Regions from separate parts of the Homo sapiens genome. Here region 2 is linked to region 1. The links come from fine-mapping of genetic effects on gene expression. A gene starts in region 1. The other region holds a variant in brackets. All regions are shown on one strand. Distances are between the middles of the regions.

Evidence for each region. PIP is the estimated chance that this variant, and not a neighbour inherited with it, causes the effect. A credible set is the group of variants that fine-mapping cannot tell apart.
Region 2: its variant is the best candidate, but not a certain one, in a credible set for the expression of GRIA2 in aorta (GTEx, PIP 0.75).

What each region holds. Positions count from the first base shown.
Region 1 is chr4:157,217,934-157,222,331 of GRCh38, forward strand. GRIA2 (glutamate ionotropic receptor AMPA type subunit 2) reads left to right here and starts at 2,795. Exons shown (of 16, transcript NM_001083619.3): 1 at 2,795-3,197; 2 at 3,734-3,874. The coding sequence starts at 3,110.
Region 2 is chr4:157,916,019-157,920,419 of GRCh38, forward strand. The region is part of intron 3 of LOC105377509 (a long non-coding RNA gene); the gene reads right to left. Among named protein-coding and RNA genes, the nearest start is that of GASK1B-AS1, 250 kb to the right of the region's middle. The variant T/A (reference allele first, on the strand shown) is at 2,182.

The DNA of each region.
Region 1 (4,398 bases):
TTTCTTGTAGCACACTATTCTAGTCAACTGTAGATCTAGTAGTTTTGAAGTTTTCAAAATTGATTGGTGATCAATTTGAAATACATATTCTTGAAATAGGAAGTTGCTACATGAAAAAATAGAGCCGTGTACATTCACAAAATAAATTCCAGTATTTTTCCATGTATTTGTATAAAGAACCATTTACTGTAGTCAATTTAAATTTATTACCCTTATATTGACAGGATTCTGTGCTTGAAACATACATGCTATTAAAACATTATAAGAAATTTGAAAAAGTCTCATGAGTGATAATATTAATAAAATTATGCTGATATAGGAAATAAGTTTCCAAATATGTGAAAGGTCTATACATAACTACCTTGTGAACATAGATACATAGAATAGCAGTTGAATTACAAGTAATGCTTGCTAAAATTTTTATTTCCACCTTATATATAAATTGTAATTGGCCACTAGACAGTAATATTTTTCTTGAGCTCTTACATATTAGTTACTATACTCTATGATTCAGCAAATTCTTATTTTTACAGCATTTGTTTTTTATAGAATGTAACTCAGTCAATTTTGAGTTCATATCTGCCCTTGACTTTGAAATAGGTTAAGATGAAAATAGTTTGAAAACATTCTTATTTTTTAAAATTCAATTCACCTGAACTCACATTTTAAACATCAAATTTTTTTCATATTGAAGCTTCCTCTCTCTCTGTCCTCGCTCTCTTTAATTCTAAGTTACTTTCTATGAAATTAAAGTTTTCCTGTGGAAACAAGTGAATCGAGAAAAAAATAACTACAGAGGTATTTTAAATTTTGCTCTGTTCTTAGTGCTTTTACATTAAAAATTTTAAATAGGTAATAATTTCCAATCATTTTGTATACCTTACATCACAAATAATGATTAAATATGTATGATTTATTTATTCTTTATGTTGCAATTTTGAATATATGTAAGTTATATCTCATTTTTTATTTTTTATCGATTTATTGTAATTTTAATTAATTTTATATATTATTTTTATTATTCAATTTTTTAAAGGTTAAATACATTTTTATTTAGAAGACCTGCTTTATATACAGTGTGGAGTACTTATAACATACTAATAAAATTCTAAGGCATAAAATTAAGAGATATTTTAGTCTATAGTTTATAAGCTTAATAATAGATTACAGCTATTCTCACTTCATGGTTTAGGACTACATCAAAAAGAGGGAAAGGTTATAATTTGAAATGACAGCAATATAGGATCCAAGAGCCATAGAAGCCACTTTGCTCATCATCATTTTTAAAATGGGGAAATTGAGGCCAATGTGATTAAGAAGCAAGCATAAGATAATCCAGTCAGCAATGAAGCTGCAAGCACAAGAAGGCAGCCTGATAGACTCATGGCATTTTGGAATACTAGCAGTTCTCTTTTTAGTACTGTAAGCTCCAATCTCCCTCTTCCTGGAAACAGTTCCTTGTTCTCAATCTTTCTTTATTTGTTTAAACCAGTAAAGACATGCAACTTGGTGGGGCTTTTCTGAGTCCGCAGAGGGAATTGTCAGAGCAGGTTTCCAGGAATGAGCTTGGAAAAAGCACCATGAAGAACATAAATTTCACACGGGAAGTCCAGTCATCCATCTCGCCATCAATTCTCTCCCTTCAAACTTTTAATATCTAACCTCATCTTTCTTTCCCTGTGGCCCGCGTGTTCAGTAGAGCGTGGTGGCTTACTTTCTTTAGGCAGTGATTTTTCGAAACCCCCGGCCAAAACGCGATGGGGAAACAGATTTCTAAGTAAGTCTCTGGGAAAGAATCTGCATCTCTGTGGCATTCCTACACTAGCTTCATCTTCTAATCACTTTCCTCTAATAGCCTTTCCTTAAACCAGAGTCTCTTGCTTTCAATCTGCATAAAGCAAGGGCTTCTAGGAAACCAAGTCTACATGACTCTACAAGGGAGGGATTGCAGTGAAAGCTGCGAGAAAGACCCGTGCGCTCTGTAACTAGGCGAGTCAGCATCACAGCCCAATGGAATATACTCTAAAGATGGGATTTTCATGCAAAATATTTAAAAGATTCCATCTTGATCTCTTGTGCGGCTTAAGCATTTAAAGATATAACTTGGGGTTCTCCCTGGATCCTGGCTACATCCCATGAAGCCCAAGTGCACAATTTTGGAATATTTCCTCCACGGTGCTTTGCTTGCTTGTTTGCTTTCGGCTGGGTCAGGTGAGGAGGATGACAGGGCTTCTGTATTGCTAAATGGGTTTTCACAGGAGATGGAAGATAAAAATCAAAATTATTTGTAACGTAAGACAGCAGGGCCTGGTGAGAGGACGCTTCGCCGCCAACAATTAGCAATTCGGCTTCTACACAGCAGCCGGAGATCAGCTTTGCTGCATTTGGTCCAGGTTGGAGCATCTCCGCAGCAGCTGCAACAGCCGCACGAAGGTAGCTCCGGGCGGGGAGCGAGGCGCTGTCCTCGGTGCTGAAAGGCCGAGGCGCGCGGTGGGCGCGACAGCCCCGGAGACCCGAGGTCTCGCGGAGGGACAGCGGCTACGGGCCCCGAGCTGTGCTTTCTCAGCGCCGCGCACGCGACGCGTCCACGGTGGTGCGGGGTGCCGGGCGCCGTGCGGGGGAGGGGGCGCGCGCTCCCGCCTCCTGCCGCGAGTCGCGCACGCGCGCCCGGGACTGCCTGCCCCTCTCTGTGACTTGCCTGTGTGTGTGCGTGTGTGTATGTGTGTGTGTGTGTGTGTGTGCGCGCGCGCGTGAGTGAGAGAGGAGAGAGGGAGAAGAGAGCGCGAGAGAGGGTGAGTGTGTGTGAGTGCATGGGAGGGTGCTGAATATTCCGAGACACTGGGACCACAGCGGCAGCTCCGCTGAAAACTGCATTCAGCCAGTCCTCCGGACTTCTGGAGCGGGGACAGGGCGCAGGGCATCAGCAGCCACCAGCAGGACCTGGGAAATAGGGATTCTTCTGCCTCCACTTCAGGTTTTAGCAGCTTGGTGCTAAATTGCTGTCTCAAAATGCAGAGGATCTAATTTGCAGAGGAAAACAGCCAAAGAAGGAAGAGGAGGAAAAGGAAAAAAAAAGGGGTATATTGTGGATGCTCTACTTTTCTTGGAAATGCAAAAGATTATGCATATTTCTGTCCTCCTTTCTCCTGTTTTATGGGGACTGATTTTTGGTGTCTCTTCTAACAGCATACAGATAGGTAGGTACCCTTTGTGCTATGCTTTTGAATTGTGCATAATTTGGTGGTAATCTTTGTTCACAGTGTACAAATTAATTCATGTCATGTAGACTTATGTCATACCTTGACTGCATTCCAGATTTAAACTACCTAGAATATACATGTTTTTCTTAGGATGAAGCAAAAGGAAAAGACTATGCCTTTGATACAATAGAAGAAAAGGTCCTCTCATTTCGGATCCCCAAATTTTATTAATTCTGCCTTAGCGACATTTTCCAGTTTGCTCAGATTTTCTTGGGGTCTGAATGCAAAGCTTGTGATTACATGGAAAGGTGAAGGTTTCTGGCCGCCTACCTCGCCTTCAGACTCTCATCTGGGTCTTGACCCCTTGGCTAGCTTTTGGATATTCCACCCCCGCTGTCCGAGTCCGTAGGTGTGTTTATTCGGCCTATTCGCGTGAATAAGAGACTCTTGGATTTTTGGGCGCTAGCGCGCGCCCCTCCTTTCCCTCCCGGGGCACTGACACTGTTCTCTTGCTTGCTGTTTGTTCTTTGCAGGGGGGCTATTTCCTAGGGGCGCCGATCAAGAATACAGTGCATTTCGAGTAGGGATGGTTCAGTTTTCCACTTCGGAGTTCAGACTGACACCCCACATCGACAATTTGGAGGTGGCAAACAGCTTCGCAGTCACTAATGCTTGTAAGTAATGAATATTCATGCCTTTCGGGTGCTGCACGCGGAAGGCCAGCGAGTGTGAGTGTGTGTGTGCGTTTCTGGGGTGGTGTGTGTGCGTTTCTGTGTGTCAGTGTGTGGGTGTGAGTGACTGCACACACGCGTGCGTGTGACCGTGTAGAGAGAAGGTGGCTGTAATCTCAGGGACCCCCGCTGGCTGGAGAGGGCTGAAGAGAGAGGGAAAGGACGTCAAGAGTGTGCGCATTAGGGAGCCGGGGTGAGGGTTGGAGCCAGGGAGGGCGGCTTTCTTGGGTTCAAGGGGTTTTCGCTCATCTTGAGTGCTTCAGGAGAAGCCCTCCCACCTCGCTCCCCATCGAGCGCCTGTTGGCACCCTGCCCACAGAGAACACGTTGTTCCCCAGGGCGCGCAGTCGGGCTGTTGGACAAATCCCACGAGGGACTGCCGGAGCCCAGTGGCCTCCTGCCCCAGCAGCTGCCGCTCTCGCCCGCTGCCCCCAGTTTAGATCCGCAGCACCGGCTGGGCTCACCCTG
Region 2 (4,401 bases), 700 kb after region 1:
GAGGCAGAGGTTGCAGTGAGCCAAGACTGTGCCATTGCACTCCAGCCTGGGGAACAAGAGTGAAACACCATCTCAAAAAAAAAAAAAAAAGAATGTAAACCATTAAATGAGATCTTCACAATCTCTTCTGAGATCTGTTTGCACTTTTCCTAAACATCACTAGCAAAATCATTTCTGCAGATCCCTGTAAGTTTGCTTACTCATTATATTAGTTTTTTATTGCTGTGAAAATTTAACGCAGAGTCAGTGGCTTAAATTCACATGGAGTGTGTTATCTTATAGTTCTGCAGGTCAAAAGTCTGGTACAGGTCCTAATGGGCTAAAATCAGGGTTTCAGCAGGCTTGTGTTGCTTTCTGGAGTCGCTATAAGAGAATCCATCCATTCACTGGCCTTTTCCAGCTTCTAGACCAAGCTCGCATTCTTCAGCTCCTAGCCATTTTCTCCAACTTCCAAGTAAGTAAAAGTGCATTAAGTCTATCTCACATCACATCACCTTGACCTTCTCTTCAGCTTTCCTCTTTCACTTTTAAGACCCTTGTGATTACATTGGGCCTACCTGGATAATATAAGATATTCTTTTCATTGAAAAAAAAAAGCAGATTAGCAACTATAATTCCATGTAGAACCCTAATTTCCCTCTGCCAGATAACAGGGATTAGGATGTGGATGTCTTTTGGAGACTGTTGGTCAGCTTCCCACATTTATGTATCTCTTCAAGAGTGTTGCCTCAACTCCATCAGTTTCAATCCATTCAACATAATATCTAACATTCATTGAGTGCTACCATATGCTAATCAGTGTGCCAAACATGTTATGAATTTAGTAACCATATAGAAAATGTGTGTGAGGAGGGAGAGTGGAAAGGGATTTCAGCTTGATTTTTATTCGTCTGAAACTTCCCACTCCTATTTCATCTCCGCATGCAGTTCACTCCGTTTCCCTTCCTGCCTTCAGGGTTTTTGGCCAAAAGAAAATAATGTTCTTCTTAGAAACAATCTATGAAAATACAATTTTCTTTCCCCAACACATTTGTACTTTACTGCAAGTATACGCCACATTGTCAACTCTGCTGGGCATGTGGCTACATATAATCTGTTTTTTTTTAATTTTGTTTTGTTTTGTTTTGTTTTGTTTTTTGTTTTTGAGACAGAGTCTTGCTCTGTCGCCAGGTTGGAGCGCAGTGGCGCAATCTCGGCTCACTGCAACCTCCACCTCTCAAGTTCAGCCAATTCCCCTGCCTCAGCCCCCCGAGTAGCTGGGACTACAGGCATGTGCCACCACGCTCTGCTAATTTTTTGTATTTTAGTAGGGATGAGGTTTCACCATGTTGGCCAGGATGGGTCTTGATCTCCTGACCTCGTGATCTACCTGCCTCAGCCTCCCAAAGTGCTGGGATTACAGGCGTAAGCCACCGCACCTGGTCTAATCTGTTTTTTAAAGAGTAGTTTGCTCTATAATTTGATTTTAAAAAAGGTTTTCATACTCTAGAATTTAATTTGAATACCTTCATAGGATTGAACTGTGTGGCTGCAGGACCATGCTTTTTTATGGTGTTTTCTATTTCTGTTTCCAGGTAAAACTTTATTATTATTATTAATGTTGTTTGGTTTAAAATATCATTATGACCATAATCTGAAAGAAAAAAGGGAGAAAAAGTTGGAAGAAGTGGGAATCTAACCTTATAGCAAGACGTAGATGTTAAATACATTTTTTTCATTATTCTTCCCTTAACTCCTTTCTTTAGTTTCCTTTCTTACCCTCTTTTTTTCCTTTTTTTATTTCTTCCCTCTTTCCTTCCTTAATCAAAACATTATCAAAGCCCTCTTATATTCAGAGCTTTTAAAATTCTACCCTTCTGTTTTGAGAAACTTGTAAAAATAAGAACATTTTGTTTAGAAAAGTTCTTAATAAAATAGTAAACTAAACAAAGAGGTCTAGAAATATTTTTCTACATGTTCAGATTATGGTCATGATGGTATTTAAATTAAAACAGCATGCACAAATTCTATTCCAGTTCAAAGACATAGGAAATAAATATTTTATGTAAAAAATATTAAATTTTAAAAATGGATATTTACGGTCTATTACATAAAATTTGAATTTAATGGAAGAATTGAAAAACAAGGACTAAATCAAAGTAAAAGCTTTTTACCATTTTTCCTGGCAGTAAAATGTCTTTG[T/A]CATAAAGTAATCAGAGTCTTGAAATTCTTTCCATTTTCTGAGATCAAGCATTCCATTTAAGCACAGACTTCTTTCTCCTAAGGCTGTTAATTATTACCAAGAATAAAGAAGTTATCTACAAATCAGAGATGCACATTGGCACAGAGGACAAAATTTTACATCAATAAATTAGATATGAAGCAAGTAACAATGACTTAATATTTATTTATTTTTCAAACCAAATAGAATTGGTATTATAAAACAAAAGGTCAGTTTTTTATAACAACCAATACAGTACCAGACATTAAGAAGACTTTCATTTGATTTGATGTGTAGGTATTATTTCATTCTGTTGTACAGCAATTGCAAAATCTATTTATTTCTGGAGTTGCCCTGTACTTACCCTCCAATCACAATGCAGAGAACCCCAATGCTTGGTTAATCACTCATGACTCCCCAGAGGCCAACTTTCAGTGGTACTAAGTGCTGCTTGCTTGTAATGCCCCACTTTCTGTGATTTCTCTCCCTCCCACCGTCTTTTCCCACAAACATTTCTTGCTTACCTGATCCACATCAGGAGCTACATGCTGAGGATTCAAATGTAATAAGGCTGTAAGAAGACTGGGCTCTTTCCCCCACAGAGTTCAGTCAAATGGAGAGAGAGAGACTTACAAAGTGGTAAGTGGTTTCCTACAATGTCTTTCCAACTTTTTTGAACACTCTCCATAAAAAATAAAAATAAAAATAAAACATTGTTTCAATATTGTAGATACCTGCATCAGGATAAAAAATAATTCATAAAGCATTATTTACTATTGTTATGCATGATATGATATCCTCTATTTTATTTTTTCTATCTCTTTTCTTCAAGCTAACCAAAACTTAGGAAATTGTTTTAATGGCCCACAATGTTACAACTCAACATTAGAGAAATATGGCTCCAGAAGATGTATGAAGACAAACAATTCCAAAAGACAGAGATACAGTATATTGTATTTACCATGGCAACCCCAAATGTTTAGCAAACTCTGTAGCATAGATTAGCTATCCAACATCCACTAGTTGAATGGATGAATGGATGAATGGATGGTTGGAATAAATGTTTTAATCACTCCGAAACTCTTTACAGGTCATCAGGAAAAGTTTTACTACAGAGGGAAGACTTGGGTAAGATGTGAAAGATTAGCTGTATTTTTCAGAGAAAACTATTACCTAACTGCCTATAATGGTGGAGGTATGAGAAAGCATGGAATGTTTGAGATGTAACAAGTAAATCAGAATGACTACTATTTTCCAAGGTGACGAACTCATTCAGCCCTTTAGCTTTAAAAAGCTTTAATTTTTTTTTTTTTTTTTTTTTTTTTTTTGAGACGAAGTCTCTCTGTGTAGCCCAGGCTGGAGTGCAGCGGCGCAATCTCGGCTCACTGCAAGCGCCGCCTCCCAGGTTCACGCCATTCTCCTACCTCAGCCTCCGGAGCAGCTGGGACTACAGCCCGTCACCAAAGCCTGGCTAATTTTTTGTATTTTTTTAGTACAGACAGGGTTTCACCGTGCTAGCCAGGATGGTCTCAATCTTCTGAAATCATGATCCGCCCGCCTTGGCCTCCAAAAGTACTGGGATTACAGGCGTGAGCCACCGCGCCGGGCCTAAATTTTATCCATATCCTGATGATGCCAAATTTATTGATTTAGTCCTCACCTCGCCCTGAGCACCAAACATTTATTTTTAATTATCTTCTTAAACTCTCCACTTGGATATCCAATGGGCATGCCAAACTTAACATTTTCCAAGCAAAGACCCTTTATTTCCTACTTTTCCCAACTTATTTCCCTCCCACCTGATATTTCCCATCTTAGTTAATGGAATTGACATCTACACATTCAGTGAGCAAAAATTAAGTCTTCATTAATAGTCTAATTTCATAATCTATTCTTTTCATTGATCAATAAATCTGTTATCTTTACCTTCAAGATACATATGAATTTAACAAATTCTCATAAGCTTACCTATTACCATTTAGTCCAAATCATGACCATCTTTTGCCTGAATGACTGCACTTGTGCTTTAACCGACCTTTCTGTTTTCATTTTTGTAAGCAAACCCCCTTCAAACAAACACACAAACTATCTCCTACATAGTGGCGAGAGGGATCTTTTTCAAGGGTAAATTACATCTTATCTTCCTTGCTTGCTACTTTGCATTAGCTTCCCATTACATTTAGAAGAAATGAAAATACTTA